Homo sapiens: one gene and its partners. The protein of the gene in region 5 purifies or fractionates together with the protein of the main gene of each other region. This does not show direct contact. Each region holds a gene or a part of one and is shown on either strand. Other genes may lie near its edges.

Region 1 (3,500 bases), on a different chromosome or scaffold from region 5:
CTCAAATTCCTTTACCAATAATTACTAACTGAGGAAATCAGAGCCCTTTATTTAAATGTTCTGCAGATTGCAGGCAATGGGAGCAGGAAATGAAAGAGATCTCGGAAATGGCCCAGGTAAAGGAGATAAACCCTAGAAAAGAAACCACAATTGTATTAATTCTATCTTCATTCCATGTCTTCTCCTACTAAACACATGAAGAAGAAATGGGTTATTTTAATAACCTAAACATAGCAGGAACTAAATATGGTTTATCCTTGAGTATCGTAACAAAAAAAGGCCCACAAAATTCAAGTGAGCAGAGCACTCTCCTTTCCTTAACTAAAAAACTTACGGGAGAAATCATCTCCACTGGGCACAATGGCTCATGCCTGTAATCCCAGCACTTTGAGAGGCCAGGGCAGGAGGACTGCTTGAGCCCAGGAGTTTGAGAACAGCCAGGGCAACAAAGCAAGACCTTGTCTCCACAAAAAATAAAAAATTAGCTGGGCGTGGTGGCACACACCTGTAGTCCCAGCTACTCAGGAGGGTGAGGTGGGAGGCTCATGTGAGCCCAATAAGTTGAGGCTGCAGTAAGCTTTGACTGTGCCACTGCATTCCAGCCTGGGTGACAGAGCAAGACCCTGGTCTCAAAAAAAAAAAAGGGGGGGGGGGGAAGAAATCATCTCCTAACTTTACAGTGTCACATCCTCATTCCTAATGCCACCTGCACCTCCACTTCACACACGAGGGTGATCGATCACCCTAAACCATCTGCTCACCAGGGCTCTGCATATGGGGTCACCTTGGCCCCATGTGATCCCATGGCTGCTGTCTAGTCTGGGCGTCAGTGACCCTGCACTCCCTACATGTGACTGCTCCTCTGCAGACCCCGTCCAATCAGCTCTCCATTTCTGTCCTGGCTGCTTCTCACCCTCGGTGATCTCATGCATCACTGTGCTTCAACCCATACCTCAATTTAAAGAACTCTCTTCTCTCTCCTGGTCTCACATTTCTACTACCTGTTAAACTTCCCAAGGATCTCCTGACAGAATCTCAAGTTCAGAAGTCTAAACAGAACTGTTTCTCCATTTGACCTTGCTCTTTTTCCCTTATTCCCCACCTTGGTTAACAATATCATCATCTTCCTAGTTTTGAAACCCTGGGGATCACTGACTTCTTTCTTTTTCTAATTCCCTATGCCCAGTCAGTTTAGCACTTCACACCATGTTTTTAAGATATCTCAAAAGGGCTTCCTAGTTCACAAGGCCCTATTAATTCTAATTCCAAAAATGTCCCTAGTTTTTAGTCTTCCTTTCCAGTTCCCAAAATTGTAACTCCGGATCATGCCATTATTACTCATAACACCTGGATCACCAATACAGTCTCCCAAGGGCTCTCCCTGCACACAATTTTTCCCACTTCAGTCCACCTACTGTCAAGAACGTCTGCTTAAAACAGATCTATTCATGTTACCTATCTATTGCCCACTGTAACCTCTTTCACACAGGCTGCTTGAGGATTAAATGAGTTAATACATGCAGGACGCTTAGAACAAAACCTCATACACACTCTACCAAACATGTTCAAACTCCACTGCTGAACCTCACGTAAAGCTACCCGTGACCTACCCTTACTCTACCTTACCATCCCGTTCCACCACACTTTTTCTGTATGCCTCTTGACACTTCCTGCGTGTTCCCATTGGGTGGCTCCTTCACTAGGACTGCCTTACAACCCAAGCTTCTGCTAGTCATCTGTGAAGATTCGCTGCTGGCCACTTTCTTTCTGGAACTTTCCCAACCCTACCATGCTCCCTTTTTCACACCCTATGCAACAAATCCGCACCTCTCTTGGAGCATTTTTCACAGTGTGGTTCGTAGAATATTTCCAGGCGCCCAAATGCACAGTGGCACTGAACTCTCCACCCCCTGCAACTGCATGTGGCTGCTAGACCTACTTTGGCTAGTGTTCAAATGTCCACTCTTCCTCCCTGAGGTCCCTGGGGAGGACCTCAACCTAGGGAGATTGTATCGTAATCCCCACTCTGTCAACTCAGGTACTTAAGGCAGTGCTTAGTGTTATGCTGAAGGAATGTTTAATTAGATGATTTAATTTTGTGATGTGAAACTTGGAAGTGAATTTTTTTTTGTTCATTTAAATGTTTCAGAGATGTTAATATCCAATTAGCTTTTGTTCTGTTTCCCAACCCTTTGGTTTTTTTTGAAAACTAACAACCTAAATATTAATAATAATTTATATTTCTATGCATTGGATAGAACTCAATATTTACAGGAACTGTTTGGACAAACCTGTTAATTCAACTAGTCATTCCTCAGTTTAATAATATCAGATTTTCTTTTTTTGTGAGACAGAGTCTTGCTCTGTCGCCCAGGCTGGAGTGCAGTGGCGTGATCTCGGCTCACTGTAACCTCCGCCTCCTGGGTTCAAGCAATTATCTGCCCCAGCCTCTCGAGTAGCTGGGATTACAGAAGCCCGCCACCACAACCGGCTAATTTTTGTATTTTTAGTAGAGATGGGGTTTCACCATCTTGGTCAGGCTGGTCTTGAACTCCTGACTTCGTGATCCACCCACCTCGGCCTCCCAAAGTACTGGGATTACAGGCATGAGCCACCATGCCTGGTCGCAGATTTTCTTAAAGTTAAGGTTAAGGCATGTCTGAATTGTTATTTGCATTTTCCTTGGTCTAGTTTTCTTGTTTTTGCCTTTATATTTTTCCTTTTTTTTTTTCCTTCTGAGATGGGGTTTTGCCATGTTGCCCAGGCTAGTCTCAAACTCCTGAGCTCAAGCAACTGGCCAGCCTCAGCCTCTCAAAGTGCTGGGATTACAGACGTAAGACACCACACCCGGCCTTATACTTTTCCTTTAATTTGCTATTGTAAAAAACAGTCGTGTCTTAAAAAAAAAAAATCAGACAAGTACCTTGAAGCTTTTGGAGGAAAGCTCTTAGGATATTCCAATAAATTAACCACATTCTTTATGTTACTCATATTGTACTCCCTGTGAACTGTACACCAAGAAAGCTAAGCTTCAGATTATAATAATGACTTTCATCTTCTACTTCTAACACCAAACTTTGGCTAGTTTGTTTTTATATTTTTACCTCCATAGATCCATGTTCTCCAGTAGCAAAGGGTAAAAGGCTTTCATAGAGTTTTGTGAATGCAGCCAATCCAGTCTCTATGATCTCTGCTTCTATGCTGGGATCCAAAGGCTCAGTCTCTGTGAAATCCAGTTCCCACACTGTGTCAACCCATTCTAGGGGAAAATGCAATGAAATGTGTAAGTACTCTGTAACAAGTAAAAAAACTAGTCACCTTTAGATTCCAGGTGTGTTCAAGAGGAGAAAAGTTTACTAGTCACGATTCACATTTAACTTGTTTTAATAACATAGGTGTAGCATAATAAAAGAAAACCAGAAAAGGTTAAGAGAATCTTAAATCACAACTGACACTGACTATTAAGCTAATCATCTTCTAAAAATATAAAGGAGGAAATA
Region 2 (3,500 bases), on a different chromosome or scaffold from region 5:
CCCAATAACCCTGAAGCTTCAGGGTCTCTGGATCCCCCTCCTCAGCCGGGGACTCCTCTCCCTGTGCCATCTGTCTGGGGCTCCTTCCTGTTCGCCTAGGAGTTCTGATTCCAGCGTGGGGAAGCTGAGCCTCCCCTGGGTCTCTGGGCTACTATCTGCTCCTTGGCGCCCTCGGTGTGGACGGCGGTCCCTGGGCTGCTCCTTGGCGCTCTTGGTGTGGACGGCGGTCCCTGGGCTGCTCCTGACGCTCTCAGTGTAGACAGTGGTCCCTGGGCTGCTCCTGACATCCTCGGTGTAGACAGCAGTCCCCGGGCTGCTCCTGACTCCCTGGGTGTAGACAGTGGTCCCTGGGCTGCTCATGACTCCCTCGGTGTAGACAGTGGTCCCTGGGCTGCTCCTGATTTCAGCTTCTCAGCCTTGTATCTGTTCCAGTAAAAAAGGCTAGGGGGGCACTGTCCATCTTCTCTAGTGAGGGCCATTGAAGAGGTCACCGTGCTCCTGGGAAGTGCATCACTCACCAGCCGCGTGACCGTGGGCAGGCTCATGGGTTCTTGTATGTGAGTGCAAAATATGACCCCATCGCAGGGGCTGTTTCGAGAAGATCAAAAGAGAGGACGCCCACAAAGCAATGCTGTGGATGAACAGTCATCATGAACTACAAACTGTGCAGACAGATTCTGAATACACAGAACTTGTCCTGCTCACATGTCCGGAACAAAGAGAGGACAAAGCCCAGAGCCCGTTACCCTTTCAGTCCTCACTTGCCTGCAGCCTGCAGCCTCAGCGAGCCGGGCTTTGCTCATTCCGTCCATATTACGTGGTGACTGTGGCCGGTGGCACTGGACAAAACCAGCACATCCTACTAAGAAGGACAACGATAAGGACAGAGACTCAACAGACCAGTCACATTTGATTTCAAGGTCCCCATCTTATTTCCACCAGAGAGCTTTAGCCACCGAAGAAACAGCTGGTGCCGCAGCCATCGTGGAGATGCGCGAGTCAGCCCAGAGCAGGGGCCGCTAGCACTGACGGAGGTGGAGGTTTCCTGGGGTCTGAGACTAACGCGGGAGCCGGCCCAGGGCAGGGGCCACCAGCACTGACGGCGGTTTCCTGGGGTCTGAGACTAGGATGTATTTCTCATCACTCACACTGACTTCTTTTCACAACATGCCCCCACCCGCCCACTGCCCTGGGCACTGTTGCAGCAGGCACTGCACTCTGTGCGGCCACCCCACTGGCAGCTCTGCACGGCAGCTGAGGATCTCGCTGCCATGGCCCTGTCATTCTGCTCAGGATGCCCCAGCCAAACCGAGACTTTACACTCAGAATACACTTAACAGCCCCCATGGCTCCCCAGGCCCAGCAAAGGGGCGTGAGCCTACAGTCTCTCCTCCTCCCAGCCCAGCAGCCAGCCAGCCCTCACACTCACCTTGCAGGCCCCAGCACCGTATCGCTGCCTGGCACCAGCTGGTCCCTGCCTGGGCCTGAACCCCCATGTCCACGCTTACCCTAGAGTCCCAGGAACCAAGCAGGCATGGAATGAGCCAAAGGGCACACGGAAAGCAATGGGACAGAGCAGAGCCCAGGAGCCGACCCCTCAGGAGTCGACGGACTTTCAACAAAGATCCAAAGGGCTGTTCGATGGAGAAGGGAGTCTTTTCAACGAACAGTGCTAAAAAGTTAGACATTCACACACTAAAAAAGAACTGTGGTCCGTATCTCGCACTATGTACAAACATTAACTCAAAATGGATCATGGTCCCAAACGTAAGAGCTGAAACTATTCTCTGTGACTTTGGGCTACGCAAGGATTTATTAGATATGACATCAGACAATTCACAAAACAAATTGATAAACCGGGCCAAAACCTAAAACTCCTGATTTTAAAGACGCTGTTAGGTGAATGGGAAGACAAACCACAAGCTGGGAGATGATATTTAAAATCGCACAGCTGACACTTGGGTCCCGAATTTTAAAAGCTCTCAAAACTCAAGAAAACAAAGGCCCCAGTTGAAAACGGAATGACACGAACAGGAAGAGGTGCTCAACGCCACCCATCATGAGAGAATCATGAACTCAACGAGACACCACCACCGCCCGCTGGAGCAGCAGGTGCTCGTGACCTCCCACCCATTGCAGGGGGAAGGGGATGGTGTAGCCGCTCTGGAGAACAGCTTGAAAGCTTCAGACAACACAGCAATCTCTCTCCTAGGTATCTGCCCAGGTGAAATAAAAAACCACGTTCGCACAGAAACCTGCACACAAATGTTGATAACATCTCACGTGTCATTGCTTAAAACAGGGTCACAAGCGGTGCCGCACCCACACCACGGATGCCACTCAGCAGGGAAAGGCGCGGGCTCTGACGCACACAGCACAGGCAGTTGACTGTGGGCGGAAGCCGGGCGGAAGCAGACAGGCTCAGAGGCCACGTCCTGCAGGATTTAGCCACGTGGCCTCCCAGAAAAAGCAAAACCACAAGAAGAGAAACAGGAACAAGGGGCCAGGCCTCGGGGGTGGAGGAGGTGCTGAGCACTAGGAAGGGAGTTTCTGAGGCGAGGAACCCTTCTCTATTTTGACTGTGATGATGTTTCTTAAGACACACAGAGCTGCACGCCAGAGGGGTGAATTTTTACTGGGTCTGCAGGTAAGCAGCTGCACAGACAGATGTGCGGGATGGTCTCACTTTAAGTCTGCACTGAGATCTCTCTTCTACTCTAGACAGACTGGAAGGGCTGCGCAGAAAGCAGCAGGGTGGCCCCCCAGCTGTGGGCTCTGTTCCCAGAAGTCCCAGCGGAGGACCCAGGGCTCAAATGGTTGGGTCAGATGAAAGTCAGAATGGGATGTGTTAGGGAAGGCTGGACAAGAGGGGCCCGGTATCAGGAGCCCACATCTAGAGAAGGAAGACAGGTGCTTGACTCATCCCACCCTGCCCACCACACCCACCTCTCCTGGCACTGCTGCTGGCGCTGTGTGGCACCCGGACTCCAGACAGACGGAGGCTGCCACCACTGCTGATGTGGTCTGGAGCCAACAGCATGGCCCCCCGCCTTCCTCTGAGACATGCACTGACGCCTGCATTCCAGGCATTGCTGTTCTTCCCATTGTCTCCCCAGTCATACAGCCAGGGGCCAGCACAGACACCTCCCCCATCCACCCGACTGAGACTTGGGAGAAGGCTGATCTACCCAGAGGGGACAGGTCGCAGTGCATCCTGAGTGCTCTCCTGGCCGAGTGGCCTGTCCCACGGGGGAGCATCCTCCATGCCGCCCTTCAGTCCGAATGTGGGTGGTTCGAGACTGGCCCACCTTGGGGGGCTCAGAGCACAGTGGAAGAGGAACGCAGCTGTGGGAAGTGCTCGTACCTGGCAGGCGCACGGCAGTGGTCAGGGGCCCGGACAGAGCCATGCCGATCTCGGTCATGCCATACCGCTCCAGCAGGGTGTGGCCCGTGATGTTCTTCCACTTCTCCAGCACTGGGAGGGGCAGGGCAGCTGAGCC
Region 3 (3,500 bases), on a different chromosome or scaffold from region 5:
ATAAATGATAATACTACTACCGTCACAGTTGAGGGTTAAGGGGTGGTCAAAAGAAATGGAAGTGGGAAGAAAGATTCAGTAACACCCCCATTTATTAAAACACCAGCAAATTAAAAGTGAAATAAATCACAATGAATTATAATACAATTTACACATTGAGCACAGAAAAATTAATAAATCTAATAATATTTATAAAAAAAGCAAAATCAGTCTTTTTCCAGAGACTAAAAACCGTTTTTCAGTCTGATCAACTGCTGCTACACCAACTTTAGAGCCAAATTTAATTTCAAGTAAAAAAAAAAAATTTACAACCACAGATTTCGCATAAATGGAAACTGGTCTTTCCTTGATTTCCCTTTGAAGTCACTAATGAGTATCTAAAACTGTTGTACTGCAGGTTTTTAATCAACTTCCTGAGGGCTGTGACTGGGAGGAAGGAGCCATAACGATCTGTGAAAGAGCAGGCTCTGTACTCTGGTCCGCCATCTGGGTGAGGACTGAAGTGGCTACAGCTTCTGCCTTGGAGGTTGAACTGACTCCATTGGATGTGCTGACCGAACTATGCTGTATAGCTTCTGTATGTGGACTACTCGGCACTGAAATGTCTTCTGAACTATCATCTTTATCAGCAGCTGGGTGGAAAAAAGAAAAATTATTCATTTTCCTAAAATCGGTAAGAATGCACCAGTATGCTGAGGCAATACACAGAGTAAAAAGTTAGAAAGTATCTTACAAAACTGATTAGACAAGTTGGTATTACAGCAATTGATATAGGTCATGAAGTAGGCAATTTTACCTGCAATAGGTCAAAAGAAGGCACAACCATGCATATGGAAACATCTGGGTGCCCACTGCCTTATGGAATAGAGCTGAAGAAATATTTGCTAAATAGTGTTAAAGAAAGAAAATGAGGGAGAGTTTGGAAGATAGTCTCTTACAGATACAATCAAACATTAAGTATCACATTTAACAAACTCAGTCTGGTTGGCCTACATGTCATTCTTATTACAAGATAAAAATGTATAACCACATGCATAAACAAAATGAATTCTTACATACAAATTATATCTTCAAATTATTCCCTCTGCATTCTCCAGAACTGTATTTATTCTGACTGATTTTCCATCTATTGCAGCCATGGATGATTATAACACCTGATTCTAATGATGCATACATAGGAGAACAAGCAGTATTTAGAATCTAAATGCCACCAGCTGTTATAGTTGCATGAATAAATTGGGATTCAAGTAAAAATCCATATAAAACTCTAAACATTGCATCTGAAAAGATATTAAGGAAAGGGCATTCTAAATATTTACGAAAATAAATCTGCAAATATTTAGACCTGAACAAGTCTCTTACATCCTTATTTTAATAGAACAGAATCCAGTAATTTCATTTAGTAAAAATTTGATATAGATAACACACAAATATTTATAGTATATGTAAGTTATGAGGAACAATGATAACATGAACACCTGGGAACCGAGCCGCCAACTTAAGAGAGAACATTGCCATTAACACTTCTGCTTCCTGGAGGTTCCTGTCCTCACCAAAGGTAATCACCACTCTGACATTTCTTTAACCATTCTCGTTTTTTCTCTGCAGTTTTACCACATAGGCATGTATCCCTAAACAATATAGTTCAGCTTTGTTTATTTTGAAACATTTTAAAAACAGTATCACACTGGATGTATTCTTTTGCACCTTGCTTTTTTCACTTGGCATTAAAACTTTTTTTATTCAGTGTTTAGGAGTGACAGTAAATAGGCTTCTAAAATCAAATCTAAGAATGTGTATTGGCCTGCTTACTAATGGCCAGATGCCCATTCTGAAAGTCAATTAGTGAAAAAAATTGTGGACATCTTATGAAGCAGGACTTAGCCTATGATTTGCAATGTAGAAGATGGAGAGGGGGATACCTGGTAGTGTCAACTTTAGCTAAAATAAAATTATTAATTTTGTGCATTTTCTGAAATATAGTTTTTACAGAATTTTTCAACATCTGCCTCAAATCCATGCATTTTTGAAAAGCAGGTTTTAAAATACATTAATGAGATGGAACCCCATCTTCTCTATAACATGCTATAAATCAAAACCATACCCCTAGATACTTGACCTCAAGGTACAATAAAACAACACCACCACCACCACCAACCACCAGAAGTAGTAATCCTTTAAAAATTATATAAAACAGAATGAATACTTAAAAAAAATTATAGATTCAGATGGTACATATGCAGGTATGTTACATGGGTATATTGTGCAATCCTGGGGTTTGGGCTTCTATTGAACCTATCACCAAAATAGTGAACATAGCACCCAACAGGTCGTTTCTCAACTAGTGCCCCTCTCCTTCACCCCCCTACTTTTCTGATCAAGCAGTAATGAATGTTATAAAATATTTATAATTCAGTTATTAAAATAGCCAATATAATCATTACATAATCATTACATGTATATAGAAAACAAAATACTGGCAATGACAGTTTAACTGGAGGGAATACTAAAAAGCTCTATTTGTTTTGTTTCACCACTATTCTTTTTTTTTTTTAAGTATTTATATGTGATTTTTAAAATTTTTTTATTTTTATCACTTTTTAAAAATTATACTTTAAGTTTTAGGGTACATGTGCACAACGTGCAGGTTAGTTACATACGTATACATATGCCATGTTGGTGTGCTGCACCCATTAACTCGTCATCCAACATTAGGTATATCTCCCAATGCTATCCCTCCCCCCTCCCCCCACCCCACAACAGGCCCCGGTGTGTGATGTTCCCCTTCCTATGTCCATGTGTTCTTATTGTTCAATTCCTACCTATGAGTGAGAACATGCAGTGTTTGGTTTTTTGTCCTTGCAATAGTTTGCTGAGAATGATGGTTTCCAGCTTCATCCATGTCCCTACAAAGGACATGAACTCATCATTTTTTATGGCTGCATAGTATTCCATGATGTATATGTGCCACATTTTCTTAATCCAGTCTATCATTGTTGGACATTTGGGTTGGTTCCAAGTGTTTGCTATTGTGAATAGTGCTGCAATAAACATACATTTGCATGTGCCTTTATAGCAGCATGATTTATAATCCTTTGGGTATATACCCAGTAATGGGATGGCTGGGTCAAATCGTATTTCTAGTTCAAGATCTCTGAGGAATCGCCACACTGACTTCCACAATGGTTGAACTAGTTTACAGTCCCACCAACAGTGTAAAAGTGTTCCTATTTCTCCACATCCTCTTCAGCACCTGTTGTTTCCTGACTTTTTAATGATCACCATTCTAACTTCACCACTATTCTTTAAAAGAACAACAGGCTGACGTTTCCCTGAATGTTGAGTTCAAGGGACACACCAGCTTTTAAAAATAAAGAGGCTGATCTGTGATGAGTGGTATAAGGAAACGTAAATACATACTGGAGTCAACAACTTAAAATGAAACAGTAAATTATAAGGGATGAATGCTTACCTACAGACTTTCAGAATTAGGTAAAGCA
Region 4 (3,500 bases), on a different chromosome or scaffold from region 5:
ACCTTGGAAGCTTGAGTTCCTGGCCGTAGCAGGAGAGGAGGTCAGACGCGCCTCACTGTACCCCTCCCTCCCCAGCCACCATTAGGCTTCTTCACTAAGGGCTAAACAGAAACCAGCCCTTTTCAAAGACTCTACACTGCTAATGTGGATTACTGGTTTATCTTCCCAGATACAGATTAAAGACAAGATGAGATTAATGGTTCCTTCACCCTTCCCTGAGAGGTCTGCTTAGTTCTCTTCCTCTGTTTCCTTCTATCTTAGGTAAAATGTACATTTACTGGGCACTTACTGAAGTCTCACAAGTACGTAACCACTCACCTCACAGCCACCCTCCCTCTTTGAAGGACCACATGTAATTACTAAACCTCCTGAGAACCTCTTGGGACAGAAACAAGCACAGATGTGCCGTGACTCATGTTTTTCCTGTGGGCACCCTCAGGCTGGCTCAGTAGCCCTCACTTGCTTGAGATCCTGAATCTGCGGGTTGGCGTCTTTCATGGTTGCTGGATCATACTCTGCCGTTATCTCTTCGGATATGAGTTGCCCCTAGCCCACTATCTGGCCCCTCTCTTTAGGGACCTCTGATTGAACATACATTAGACCTTCTCTCTCCTGCTGTTCCTGATCACTCTTCTGTCCTGTAATTGCTGCTTCTTGTGCTGCATTCTGGGTAATTTCTTCTGGTCTTTTTTCCAGTTTACTAATATTGTATTCTGTTATAAGGTCCTTCCATTGAGTGTTTCTTTCTTTCTTTTTTCCCAAACAGCAACTCAAAACAGACATTGAGTTTTAATTTTGGTTCCTGTACTTTTTATTTCTAGAAGTTCTATTTGGTTATTTTTCAAGTCTGCTACATTATTACATAATTTTTTAATAATTTTATATCTTTAATAGATAGTTTTTTGTTTTGTTTTGTTTTGTTTTGTTTTTTGAGACAGAGTCTCGCTTTGTTGCCCAGGCTGGAGTGCAGTGGTGCAATCTCAGCTCACAGCAACCTCCGCCTCCCAGGTTCAAGTGATTCCCCTGCCTCAGCCTCCCAAGTAGCTGGGATTACAGGCACGCATCACCACGCCTGGCTAATTTTTTGTGTTTTAGTAGAGACAGGGTTTCACCATGTTGGCCAAGACAGTCTCGATCTCCTGACCTCGTGATCTGCCCACCTCGGCCTCCCGAAGTCCTGGGATTACAGAGCTGAGCCACTGCGCCTGGCCTTTGATAGATATTTCAAGTTCATCTTTTTTTTTTGCTTCCTTAATTTTTTTTTTTGCTATACCCCATGCCTCCAAGATAACAGTTTTTTCTTTTTAATTTAAATATAATACAGTTTTACTGTGTATCCAAGAATATCTGAAATCTTTCGTGGGTCTCTTTCTTTTGTCTTTTGTATCTGTTGCTTTTTGCTGGGCTGAGCCTGCTTAAAACAAGCCCCGTTAGCTGTAAAGGTTTACCTTAGAAAGTCAGGTGTCTTCCTCTGTAACTCTCTCCCTTTTCCATCTGCTCCAAGGCATTTATTTATATTAATCTTGACGCAAAGGGAAGTTGTGTCCACTTCACCTTGGCCAGTAAGGAAGCAGTGTTTGGCAGATGTTGTTACTCCTAATAATGCCAGCCAGTGAGTGAAGCTGACCTGAATGCCTCCCAGGGCTGAGGCAATGGCATGATCACCGAAGCTCAAACCAGAGACAGTTTCACCTTTCTGACTGAATAGTGTTCGGTGTAGGCCAAATGCCTGCAGACTACTGTTTGAGGACTGGTGTGGTCTACCAGGTGTTTCCTTAGCGCCTGGATGTCTCTGGCTGCCATCCCAGGGATAGAGCATGGTGTTAGATACGCTAGATGCCTGCCGAAGTAATTATGGGTGAAACATATGATGTCCAAGATTTGCTTTTAAAGGCTCCAATACCTCCTCCCAGATTCCGGAGGGCTGTGAAACAATTAGCTATGAAAACTGGTAATTCCTGAAGCTGGGTACATGGGGGTTCATGATCCCTCTCTCACCTTTTTTGGGGGAGAATGTTTGAGACTTTAATAAGAACTTGTTGCCTTTTCCTTTTACAGGGTGTTGCAGGCATCTTCCTCAGGCCTGTTTTCTCTGTTTTCCAGGCTGACGTGATGGCAGACAGGGTTCCCCGCTGCCCGGTCTGCACCGGCGTTGTGAAGCCCGACATTGTGTTCTTTGGGGAGCCGCTGCCCCAGAGGTTCTTGCTGCATGTGGTTGATTTCCCCATGGCAGATCTGCTGCTCATCCTTGGGACCTCCCTGGAGGTTTGTCAGCAGGCCTGTGCAGGGAGGAGGCTGGAGGGCAGGGGAAGGGAGGGGTACAGGAGTCATCTCATGGGCTGTCGGCAGGCCTGTGCAGGGAGGAGTCTGGAGGGCAGGGGAAGGGAGGGGTACAGGAGTCACCTCATGGGCTGTCGGCAGGCCTGTGCAGGGAGGAGGCTGGAGGGCAGGGGAAGGGAGGGGTACAGGAGTCATCTCATGGGCTGTCGGCAGGCCTGTGCAGGGAGGAGGCTGGAGGGCAGGGGAAGGGAGGGGTACAGGAGTCATCTCATGGGCCCTTCCAGGGCTGGTGCCACTTTGGGAAGGTGAATGGATTCAGCTGGGGTTCCAGGCTGAGGGAGCAGCAGCCTGTGCAGGAGACAGGAAGGTGGGAAGCTGCTGGGCTTTGGAGGTGGTATAGGTGTGGGTGGGGCACCACGTGTGAGGAGAAGGGAGAAGGATGGGGGTGTGGGGGCGAGGTGGAGGGGCAGGGCCTCCCAGGTCAGATCAGGAATACTGATGCTGCAGTGGGAGGAGTGATAAATCCACAGGGACTGGCCCGGGGACGTAGCTGCACCCTTGGGGTCAGGGAGGCCTTTGGGGAGTGGAGAGTGGAGCAAGCAGTGCCAGGAGGCTGGTCCTGGAGAAGGTGGAGCTGTGGTCGCCTGAGGGATGGCGAGGAGGGGGACTGGACTCGCAGTCTGTGATGTTTTGGGGACGTGAGAAGGAGGCGTCTGGCTTGGTCTGTAAGGTCAGGGCACTTGCTGGTGAGGCGTGATTTGGGAGGGAGGATGCCCAGCTCGGTTCTGTGTGTGTCTGAGGTGTCGGGAAACATGCCCTGGATGTGTTCAAGCAGCTGTTCTGCGTCTGCGTCTGCAGCTCAGGAAATTCCTAAAAGCTGTGATGAGAGCAAGAAATGAGACCATGAAGTCAGTGTGTGCGTGACTGGATGTAGGCACCGAGGACAGAAGGGCCAGAAAGACCTGTGCTCAGAGGGGCCCAGGGCAGCCACAGGGGCCCAGAGCATGTGTTTGTTCAGGCATTCATTGTGTGCTGGGCCCTGCTCCAGTGCTTTGGACATACACGGTCAGATGTCAGTGTAAGAAGTTATATAGTTTGTTAGGAGATGATTGATGTTATGAGAAAGATAACAAGTAGGATAGAAAGGCTAGAAGGGTTGGGAACCAGCTGCAGTGTCAAGTCAGGCAGGTGGAGTTGGATCTAAGAGTTTACCGAGGTGA
Region 5 (3,500 bases):
TATAATTTGGTGAAGGCAGGGACTGTATCATATAACTCTTATCTGTCTTCATGGCACCTACCCATGCTGGACTTGCTGTCTCTGAGTAAAGGAATGATTTAACAGACCTGTCTACAGATAGTATTTGTCCCACTTAATGATTCTTTGAACTTACACAGCGCTCTCAGCAGCCTGAGATCAGCAGGCTGAAACGAGTTAATCACATGACCATAGGCCTGCTCTAGCAGTGTTACTTAGAGGACCTCTACATCCCCAACTCGGAGCAGCTGGCAAAAGTGACAAGTATGAGTGTACTTCATTATCCAATCTTCACATGGCTGGGAATCAATATTGCTCATGTGGTCACACAAACCTGTAACTTCTCTTTTTGTGGGAAAATGAGAAAGAGAAGTTGGTTTTTGAGTTGCCTAGAGTCTGTGAAAAGCACGTATCTAAAAAAGCACAAGCTTTCTGGGAACAAAGACAGTGACTTTCTTTGCAGTGAACATCAATACTATTTTCTTTCTAAGCAACCCCTAAATCCAGGCTTTCATTAGCTGGGAAACAGCTTCCAATCTCATAGCTGGGCAGCTGCCCTTCAAAGACACTGCTTTCTCCCCTGCTTGCTCGCTACAAGTCTTATGTTACAAATCCTATGAGAGGGAGAGGGGGAGCCTCTGACCACCAGGCAAACGGAAATACATTTTAAACATCTGCAAGGCATGGTTTGCACCCCTTTGGGGTGACCCTCACTGCACTGAAACAAAGGCAATTTGCAGACAAGGCCCCAGATTTACCGAAAGCAAGTGAATACAATGCAACCAATTACCCTGTTTGGACTGGATGGCAATGAAGGAAACCAGGCCCCTCAGAATGGCTGGCTTACAGCAATCTATTGTCCTCTTGGACTTCTGGATGCTTGAGTTTCAATTTCTCTTAAAGCAATTAAGGAGCACCTCACCTGCATAAGAACTGCAGGCCCCAGATATTTGTCTCCGTTCCACCAGTAGCTGGGGCAGCTGGTGCTACAGCAGGCACAGAGAATGCACTCGTAGAGCCCGTCCTGTATGGGGAGAAAAGAGAGGCAGGAGCTTGTGACGGGAGAGACTCTGCTATGTCTTCAGCTGATTAAATGTTACCTTTGGGGTCAGTGCATGAACAAAGTGCCTACTTGCATGTGAATTTTCTTAGCAAAATCCAAGGGGTGATTTGCAGATATTTAGCAGATTAATAAAGATCTTGCAAGTGAAATGTAAACATCTGCCCAGGGTTCTTAAATCCACGTATAGTGCACTTTCCCTTTAATAAACAAGAACCTCTCACTTGTCTAAAAAAGAAATAGAAAACAAGAACACAAAAACAACTCCCATAAATTCCAGCTTCCTGGAATGAGGTCAAGACGGGAGAGATTCAAAAGCCTAGGGGCTGAAGCAGCAAGAGTCTGTAGCTGCTTCTGCCCTGGGCTCAGCAGAAGGGCCCTCAGGTTTTCACTGGGAACATCAACATCATCCCCAGTGACTGCCACTGCCAATCCTGACGGAGGCCCTGCGCCTTACACGCTTTCCTTAACTGATCATCACAGTAATCCTGTGAGGTGACTCCAGCAAGTTCCACTTACAGGTAAGGAACCAAGGCGAGGAGAGTGAGTTAGGCCATGTGCCCAGGGACGTGCCACTATAGGCAGCAGAACCAGGATGTGGCCCCGGCAGCTGGCTCTGGCTTCCTGCACTTTCACACCTGCCACACTGGGTCAATCTGCCCAACAAGTCCCAAACACAAACCGGACTTTCTGAGTTTGGAAACAACAGAAATGGATTAAAAACAGCAAAATGAAAGGGGCCCACTGACACCTGAAGTGACAGTTGAGAACAGATGAGACAGAACTGATGGTTGTGATTGAACCATGAGTCTTCAACCAAATCTATGTTATGTCCAGACAGCTGGTGGGAGTGTCAACTGGCCCCACTGGTCTAGAAGGCATAAGGTCACAGGATTAAGAGCCTTAAGAATAGTCATATTCTTTAACCCACTCCTAGAAAAATCTGTAATAAGAAATTAGAATGTTTTGGGCAGAACTTGAAGGATAAAGATGTTCATCTAGCCTTATTTCTAACAGTAAAAAATTGGAAACAATTTCATTGTCCAGCAACAGTGAAATGGTTTTATGGCGCATGGTGCATACATCTGAAGCAGTAGAAAGCAAAGTGTAAGTTAATGCTTATGAACAATTTTAAGAATATGAAGAAAATGCTCACAATAACATAAGTGAAAAAAGCAGGATATAAAAGCATATTTACATTTTGATCCCAGCTACATAAAAATATAATGTAATAAACAAAAAACAAAGGAAACTATAAATATTAACAGAGATTATGTTTTGGTGGTGGAATTATAAATTCTTTTTTTTTTTTTTTTTGAGACAGGGTCTTGCTGTGTGCCCCTGGCTGGAGTGCAGTGGCACAATCACAGTTCACTGCAGCCTGGAACTCTTGTGCTCAAGCAATCCTCCCATCTCAGCCTCCTGAGTAGCTGGGACTATAGGTGCATACCACCATGCCTGGCTAAGTTTTAAAGTTTTTGTAGAGACAGGGTCGCCCTATGTTCCCCAGGCTGAAAATTATAGCTTATTTAAAAAATGATGGAGCCTCTCTGAACCTATTTTGGTTTGGGGGCTGCCCAATTAAAAATAAATACATACATAAATTTCTCCACATTTTCCAATTATTTATTAAGTTCAGCATACTAATTTAAGGAAGCCAAAAAATGTTAAATGTTTGGTATGTAAATGAGTAAATGAGTAAATTTCTATTACAGGTTGGGCATCCCAAATCTGAAAATCTGAAATCCAAAATGTTCCAAAATCTGAAACTTTTTGAGCACCAATATGCTGCTCAAAGGAAATGTTCACTGGAGCATGGATTTCAGATTTCGGATTTGGGGTGCTCAACTAGTAAGTGTAAGGCAAATATTCCAAAATCTGAAAACATATGAAACCCCAAACACTGAAACCCAAGCATTTAGGATAAGGAATACTCAACTTGTATCTAGAAAACCAAACATGCTCAGGGGAACTCTTCAATCCCTAATAATACCACATCAGGGAGATGTTCACTAGCTACGCACCAGCCTTGCCTAGGAATGCAAAGGACTCGCTGGGCCAGAGGGCCCGGTTCAGCCTGGACTCTGGGATGCACAAGACTCTGGGAGGTAGAAACTGAGGAGCAGAGCTGCAGTCTGAGAAGAGCAGCTCTGAAGTCTCATCCCAGGCTTACTCTGACTTGCAGGCCACTGTGCTGACCCTCACTATCTTGATGGTGACAGACTGGGCACACTTACTAGGACTCCCCTTTTTCTCTTTTCTTTTTTTCTTTGAGACGGAGTCTTGCTCTGTTGCCCAGGCTGAAGTACAGTGGCACAACCTTGGCTCACTGAAACCTCCACCTCCCGGGTTCAAGAGATTCTCCTGCCTTGGCCTCCTGAGTAGCTGGGATTATAGGTGTGAGCCACCACACTCAGCTAAT
Region 6 (3,500 bases), on a different chromosome or scaffold from region 5:
CCCGGGAGGCGGAGGTTGCGGTGAGCTGAGATCACGCCACTGCACTCTAGCCTGAGTGACAGAGCGAGATTCCGTCTCAAAAAAAAACAAAACAAAACAAAAAAAACACAAAACAGACAACAAACCCTAGCTCCTATAGATACAAGATTTTAGGAGGGTTCCTAGCTGATGAGTCTCAAACCTAAGGCCATAGATTAGCTTCTTTCAGATACACACGACTTTTCCCCAGTTTACTATGAGCAGTTTAACTCTTTGTCCCCTTTGAAAAATCTTGCTCTCTAAGCCCAGAATGGGTAAGGGATTAGTTCTAACATGTCTATCTGCTTCCCTTTCATCTCTATTCCTAATAGGAAAGATTCCAAGTCATTTCCTCTACTGTAGGAACAGACTGAGCTGTGGTGACAACTACCATGATGACCATCACTGGCACCTCTGAGTGAACTCTTCCTCCCCACTATCCTGGCATAGAAGTCTTCAGTGGAAATAAACTCCATTTTCCATGAGTTCACTTACTATTTTGCAATAATGTAATACTACTTCTACTATAAACATTTAGAAATGGTGGATTTATGGGCCGGGTGCGGTGGCTCATGCCTGTAATCCCAGCACTTTGGGAGGCCAAGGTGGGCAGATCACGAGGTCAGGAGATCAAGACCATCCTGGCCAACATGGTGAAACCCTGTCCCTACTAAAAATACAAAAATTAGCCAGGTACAGTGGCACACACCTGGAGTCTCAGCTATTCAGGAGGCTGAGGCAGGAGAATCGCTTGAACCTGGGAGGTGGAGGTTGCAGTGAGCCAAGATCGCGCCACTGCACTCCAGCCTGGCAACAGAGCAAGACTCCGTCTCAAAAAAAAAGGAAATGTTGGATAAAATGTAAAACAGACAAATACACTTTTGCTTTTTTTTTTTTTTTTTTTTTTTTTTTGGATTGCACCACTGCCCTCCAGCCTGGGCTACAGAGTGAGATTCTGGGACTACAGGTGCACGCCACCACACCCAGCTTTTTTTGTATTTTTAGTAGAGTTGGGGTTTCACCATGTTGGCCAGGCTGGTCTCGAACTCCTGGACTCAAGTGATCTGCCCGCCTCGGCCTCCCAAAGTACTGGATTATAGGCATGAGCCACCACACCTGACCAAAAAATAATTTGACAGAAACCACCCCTAAGGAAACCCAGACATTGTAATTATTAGTAAAGACACAAATCAATTGTCCTAAATATGTCCAATGAGCTAAAGGAAACCATGGACAAAGAAGTAATGAAATCAGAAAAACAATGTGTGAACACATTGGAGACAGAAATTATACAAGGGAACCAAACAGAAATTCTGGAGCTAAAAAGTACAATAAATTTTAAAATTCACTAGAGGGGTTCAACAGCAGGTTTGAGCAGGCAAAGTATCAGTGAACTTGAGGATAAGGTAATTAAAATTACATAGTCTAAAATGCAAAGAGAAAAAATAATGGAAAAAAAATGAACAAAACCTTGAGGGACCTGTGGGACATCATCAAGTATACCAAATACACATCATAGGAGTCCCAGAAAAAGAAGAAAGAAATGGATAGAAAAAAAATTTGAAGAAATAATGCGGCCAGGCACAATGGCTCATACCTGTAATCCCAGCACTTTGGGAGGCCAAGGTGGGTGGATCACCTGAGGTCAGGAGTTCGAGACCAGCCTGGTCAACAGGGTGAAACCCTATCTTTACTAAAAAATACAAAAATTAGCCAGGTGTGGGTGGCAAGTGCCTGTAATCCCAGCTACTTGGGAGACTGAGGCAGGAGAATCACTTGAACCTGGGAGGCGGAGGCTGCAATGAGCCGAGATCGGGCCACTGCACTCCAGCCTGGGAAACAAGAGTAAAGCTCCATCTCAAAAAATAAAATAAAATAAAAATAACATGCAAAAAAAAAAAAAGAAAGAAAAAGAAATAATGGCTGCAGACATCCCAAATCTGATGAAAGACATTCATATGTACATCCAGGAAGCTCAAAAACCTCCTAGCAAGATAAACTGAAAGAAATTCATACCAAGAAACATTAAAACCAAAGTGTCAAAACCCAAACACAAAGAATGAATCTTGAAAGTGGCAATAGGCTGGGCACAGCAGCTCATGCCTATAATCCCAACACATTGGGAGGCAGAGGCAAGAGGATCACTTGAGGCCAGGAGTTCGAGACCAGCCTGGGCAACAAAGCGAGACCCCTGTCTCTACAAAAAAATTAGAAAAAAAAAAAAAAAATTAGCCAGGTGCTGTGGCACACACCTGTAGTCCCAGCTACTCAGGGGCTGAGGTGGGAAGATCGCTTGAGCCCAGCAGGTTGAGGCTGCAGTGCAGCTATCATTGCACCACTGTGCTCACTCCAGCCTGGCTGAAAAAGTGAGACCCTGACTTTAAAATAAAAAAGAAACAAACAAAGGCTAAAGGGGATCCTTCAGGCTAAAATGAAAGGACACCAGAAAGTAACTCAAAACCACAAGAAAAAAACAAAAAACATGTATGTTTTACTACTATGTAGGAAAAGTAACTACATAGATAAATATAAAAGCCTGTATTACTGTACTTTTGGTTTATAATTCCTCATTTTTCATCCTGTATGATTTAAAAGGCAAATGCATAAAACAATAATTATGAATTGATGTAATGGGCACCCAAGGTATAAAACTGTAATCTGTGATAATGAAGCAGGAGAGACATAATGAAGTGGGAGGGAGAGACATATAGGAGCAGAGCGTTTGTATATTATTGAAACTAAGTTGATATTATTCAAACTAGGTTGAACTAGCCACCACGCCTGGCTGTGTTTCTCTATTTCTGCAAAAACCACTGTTGAGGACAGGCGGTGGCCCATGCCTGTAATCCCAACGCTTTGGGAGGTCAAGGCGGGTGGATCATCTGAGGTCAGGAGTTTGAGACCGGCCTGGCCACTTAATGGGAAAGCACAGTCTCTTCAATAAATGGTGCTAGAAAAATGAATATTCTCATGCAAAAAAAAGCAAAAACATCACATAGTTTTCACTATATACAAAAACTAACTCAAAATGGAGCAAAGACCTAAATGTGAGAGCTAAAACTATAAAAATCTTAGAGAAAAAGGAAGGGGAAATACTTCATGACACTGGATTTGGCAATGATTTCTTGAATATGACACCAAAAGAAAAAACTCGATATGGTAACAAAAGAAAAAAACTTGAAAAACTGGATTTCATCAAAATTTAAAACTTTTTTGCATCAAAGGATACTATCAAGAGTGAAAAGACGGCAGGCGCAGTGGCTCACGCCTGTAATCCCAGCACTTTGGGAGGCCGAGGCAGGTGGATCACCCGAGGTCGGGAATTCAAGACCAGCCTGTCCAACATGGTGAAACCCTGTCTCTACTAAAAATACAAAATTAGCCAGGCATGGTGGCGCATGCCTGTAATCTGAGCTACTCAGGAGGCTGAGGCAGGAGAATTGCTTGAACCCAGGAGGCAGAGGTTGCGGTGAGCCGAGATC
Region 7 (3,500 bases), on a different chromosome or scaffold from region 5:
CTTGTTGCCCAGGCTGGAGTGCAATGGTGTGATCTCAGCTCACCGCAACCTCCACCTCCCAGGTTCAAGCGTTTCTCCTGCCTCAGTCTCCTAAGTAGCTGGGATTACAGGCATGCACCACCACATCTGGCTAATTTTGTATTTTTAGTAGAGATGGGGTTTCTCCATGTTGGTCAGGCTGGTCCCAAACTCTTGACCTCAGGTGATCTGCCCGCCTTGGCCTTTGGGATTACAGGCGTGAGCTACCGCACTTGGCCACAATATGTTGTTTCTAAAAATTATAAAGCAGTATATTGTAAAATTTTTCAAATGTTTGATCAAGGTATAAAATTCATTTCCTTATACTATACCACATGTTAATTGATCCAGGGGTAATCACAATTAAGTTTTTATTGTATCTGCTGAGATACTTTCCATACACACGTAAGCATATACATATATACACACACACACATTATTGTACACTTAATTTATGTCCTTAATACATTCTGAAGCACTTTCCATATCAGCACGTTGAGATCTAGCTCATTGGTTTAAACATCTGCATGTTTCATTTTATGATTATACAAAAAAATTTTTCAGCAGTTCCCTATTGATGGATATTTACATATTTTTGTTTTGTCTGACATGACAAACATTGCAAATGTACATCCTTTGTCTCATGATGAATCATGCCTTGAGTCTCACTCATATCTGATTTAGATGAGACTTTGGACTTTGACTTTAAAGTTGATGCTGGAACAAGTTAAGACTTTTTAGGGGCTATTGGGATGGAATGAATTTATTTTGCATGTGAGGACATGAATCTGGGGAGCCCAAGGTGTGGAATGCTATGTTTTGAATGTGTTGTCTCCACAATTCATGTGTTGGAAACTTAATCCCAATGCAACAGGGTTGGGAGGCGGAGCCTTCTGGGAGATGATTAGGTCACAAGGACTCTGGCCTCATATTTGATTGATGCCATTATAAAAAGGGTTTGCGGGAGCATGTTAGCTCTCCCTTGCCCTTCCATCTTCTGCCATGGGAGGACAGCAAGAAGGCCCTTCCCAGATGCTGGCACCTGATCATGGTCTTCCTGGCCTCCAGAATTGTAAGAAGTAAATTTTTTTTTTTTTTAACGAAGAAGTGAGTATTTTATTATTTTGCTGTACAGCTGTTGCTTCACTATATAAAAACAGCACCAGCAAATGCAGTGTATTGCAAAATTAAGATAGTGTTGTTCTTCATCTGACACTGTACAAGCAACAAAAACTTCTTCACTCCCAGTTATTTCCAATGGAAAGATCATTAAGTATTTCATCCCAAGTCCAGGTATGGACATACACAAGTTACAATATTATATAAGGCTTAAGAATAACAACATTATCTTTGAATTATGTAATTTTTGTAACTAATTTTTACCATGGATAATTTCATGGATAATTTCATGAATACTAGAGCCTAGTCTAAAAATCATAGGATGTTGTGAAAAAGACACATATTATGTTTATCTACAATCATTAGAAAGTTAAAAGGCATCTTCTTTCATTAGCAGTGTTAACAGTAGTTTTTTTTTCCCATGGGTAATGCTAAAAGTTGCTATTCTAAGTCTTCTATCCACCACTAATTTAGGACAACTCTGCTGGGTTGCGTTATTTCATACTAGCTTATTTAGTGGTTCCATTTTCACTCCTCAATAGATTTTATGTATTTCTCATATGCTTCTTCACTCATAAGTTCATCTAGTTATGAAGGGTTACTCAGTGTCATCTTGATCAGCCAACCATCTTCATAACGAGATTTGTTTACAAGTCCTGGATTTTCTGCAAGAGCTTCATTAATTTCGGTTACTTCTCCTGATAAAGGAGAATAGAGTTCACTAGCAGCTTTCACACTCTCCAAAGCACCAAACTCATCTTGTTTGTTCAATTTTGTCCCAACTTCAGGCAGATTACAGTAACCAGACGGCGCCCATCCCAAGCTGCCAGGGCCTCGATAGGCAGGGCGCGGCAGGTGCCAGGACCACGTGCAGGCTGCAGAGCACGGCCCGCACGCTCCGCACCACTCGCAGCGCCATGTTCCCAGGGGTGCGGGGATGGCAGCGCTACGCCTCAGCCACTCGCGCGGGGAGGCGGGGCGGTGTGGGCAGAAGTAAATTTCTTTATAAATTACCCAGTCTGGGCCTGGTGTGTTGGCTCACATGTGTAATTCCAGAACTTTGGGAGGTCAAGGTGGGAGGAGCGCCTGGGCCCAGGGGTTCAAGACGAGCCTGGGCAACATAGTGAGACCTGTCTCTATAAAATATTTTTAAAAATTAGCTGGGCGCGGTGGCTTACGCCTGTAATCCCAGCACTTTGGGAGGCCGAGGTGGGCAGATCATGAGGTCAGGAGTTTGAGACCAGCCTGACCAACATGGTGAAACCCCGTCTCTACTAAAAATACAAAAATTAGCTGGGCATGGTGGCGCACACCTGTAATCCTAGCTAGATCCTAGTAGATTGAGGCAGGAAAACTGAACCCGGGAGGTGGAGGTTGCAGTGAGCTGAGATTGTGCCACTGCACTTCAGCCTGGGCGACAAACTGAGACTCCGTCTCAGAAAAAAAAAATAAATAAATAAAAATTAGTGGGGCATGGTGGCTCACACCTGTAGTTCCAGCTGTTCAGGAGGCTGAGGCAGGAGGATTGCTTGATCCAGGGAGGTTGAGGCTGCAGTGAACTGTGATCATGCCACTGAACCCCAGCCTGGGTGACAGAGTTGCCTCAATCAGTCAATCAATCAACCCATCACCCAGTCTGTGATATTCTGTTTTAACAGCAGAAACAAAGACAACTAGACATGCCCACTGTGTTATGTACTTACCTCTATTAGAATATGTTATGTCATTACTATAATTGATGCCTACATATCTCTTTTAGTATACTGTTAGCTTCTTGAGGACATTAGCTAAATTGTATTTCTCTTTGTAGTCTTGGGTAATGTACTTGACACACAGTAGATACTCTGCAAAAAAATTTTGTTTTTCTTTTTGAGATGGGGTCTCGCTTTGTCGCCCATGCTAGAGCGCAGTGGCGCGATCTGGGATCACTGCAACCTCCGCCTCCCAGGTTTAAGCAATTCTCTGACTCAGCCTCCAGAGTAGCTGGGATTACAGGTGTCTTGCCACCATGCCCGGCTAATTTTTGTATTTTTAGTAGAGATGGGGTTTCACTATCTTGGCCAGGCTGGTCTTGAACTCCTGGCCTTATGAGAGCCACCGCACCCAGCTGATACTCTGCAAATGTTTAATAGATGTTGGAGCTGAATTTCAGGCTTTGTAATGTCACAGAACCAGGCATCAGAAGAGCTGATCCAAACCCAAGATCTGCCCCTAACTTGCCTCTTATTCTTTCTGGCCTCCATTTCCACAATTATAAAATGCAGGTATAATACTAAAATTTTTTTTTGTATAGTCCTTTACAGATCCAAAATTATGATTTTAAGAAGGAAATTAATAAGTTATTCATCTCAGTATCTCTTTAG

What was found.
Region 1: the proteins of SDHB (region 5) and NCAPD3 purify together in Homo sapiens (co-immunoprecipitation; one large-scale study listed by IntAct). This does not show direct contact.
Region 2: the proteins of SDHB (region 5) and ACSF3 purify together in Homo sapiens (affinity purification with mass spectrometry; 2 studies listed by BioGRID and IntAct, with this or other methods). This does not show direct contact.
Region 3: the proteins of SDHB (region 5) and ATF2 purify together in Homo sapiens (co-immunoprecipitation; one large-scale study listed by IntAct). This does not show direct contact.
Region 4: the proteins of SDHB (region 5) and SIRT3 purify together in Homo sapiens (affinity purification with mass spectrometry; one large-scale study listed by BioGRID and IntAct). This does not show direct contact.
Region 6: the proteins of SDHB (region 5) and MRPL45 fractionate together in Homo sapiens (co-fractionation; 2 studies listed by BioGRID). This does not show direct contact.
Region 7: the proteins of SDHB (region 5) and NDUFS1 fractionate together in Homo sapiens (co-fractionation; 2 studies listed by BioGRID). This does not show direct contact.

Annotation. Positions count from the first base shown.
Region 1 is NC_000011.10:134,217,468-134,220,967, forward strand, and holds part of NCAPD3 (condensin-2 complex subunit D3), read right to left. Parts: intron 3,260-3,500; coding exon 3,105-3,259; intron 3,025-3,104; exon of another isoform or gene 2,924-3,024; intron 1-2,923.
Region 2 is NC_000016.10:89,114,352-89,117,851, reverse strand, and holds part of ACSF3 (malonate--CoA ligase ACSF3, mitochondrial isoform 1 precursor), read right to left. Parts: coding exon 3,365-3,500; intron 863-3,364; exon of another isoform or gene 766-862; intron 1-765. UniProt on the Homo sapiens protein: Catalyzes the initial reaction in intramitochondrial fatty acid synthesis, by activating malonate and methylmalonate, but not acetate, into their respective CoA thioester. May have some preference toward very-long-chain substrates.
Region 3 is NC_000002.12:175,074,204-175,077,703, forward strand, and holds part of ATF2 (cyclic AMP-dependent transcription factor ATF-2), read right to left. Parts: intron 885-3,500; exon of another isoform or gene 797-884; intron 665-796; coding exon of another isoform or gene 657-664; exon of another isoform or gene 633-656; coding exon 406-632; 3' UTR 1-405. UniProt on the Homo sapiens protein: Transcriptional activator which regulates the transcription of various genes, including those involved in anti-apoptosis, cell growth, and DNA damage response.
Region 4 is NC_000011.10:222,843-226,342, reverse strand, and holds part of SIRT3 (NAD-dependent protein deacetylase sirtuin-3, mitochondrial), read left to right. Parts: intron 1-261; exon of another isoform or gene 262-670; intron 671-2,103; coding exon 2,104-2,265; intron 2,266-3,500.
Region 5 is NC_000001.11:17,023,033-17,026,532, forward strand, and holds part of SDHB (succinate dehydrogenase [ubiquinone] iron-sulfur subunit, mitochondrial isoform 1 precursor), read right to left. Parts: intron 1,043-3,500; coding exon 941-1,042; intron 1-940. UniProt on the Homo sapiens protein: Iron-sulfur protein (IP) subunit of the succinate dehydrogenase complex (mitochondrial respiratory chain complex II), responsible for transferring electrons from succinate to ubiquinone (coenzyme Q).
Region 6 is NC_000017.11:38,314,168-38,317,667, reverse strand, and holds part of MRPL45 (large ribosomal subunit protein mL45), read right to left. Parts: intron 1-3,500.
Region 7 is NC_000002.12:206,114,445-206,117,944, forward strand, and holds the end of NDUFS1 (NADH-ubiquinone oxidoreductase 75 kDa subunit, mitochondrial isoform 1 precursor), read right to left. Parts: 3' UTR 373-3,500; downstream 1-372.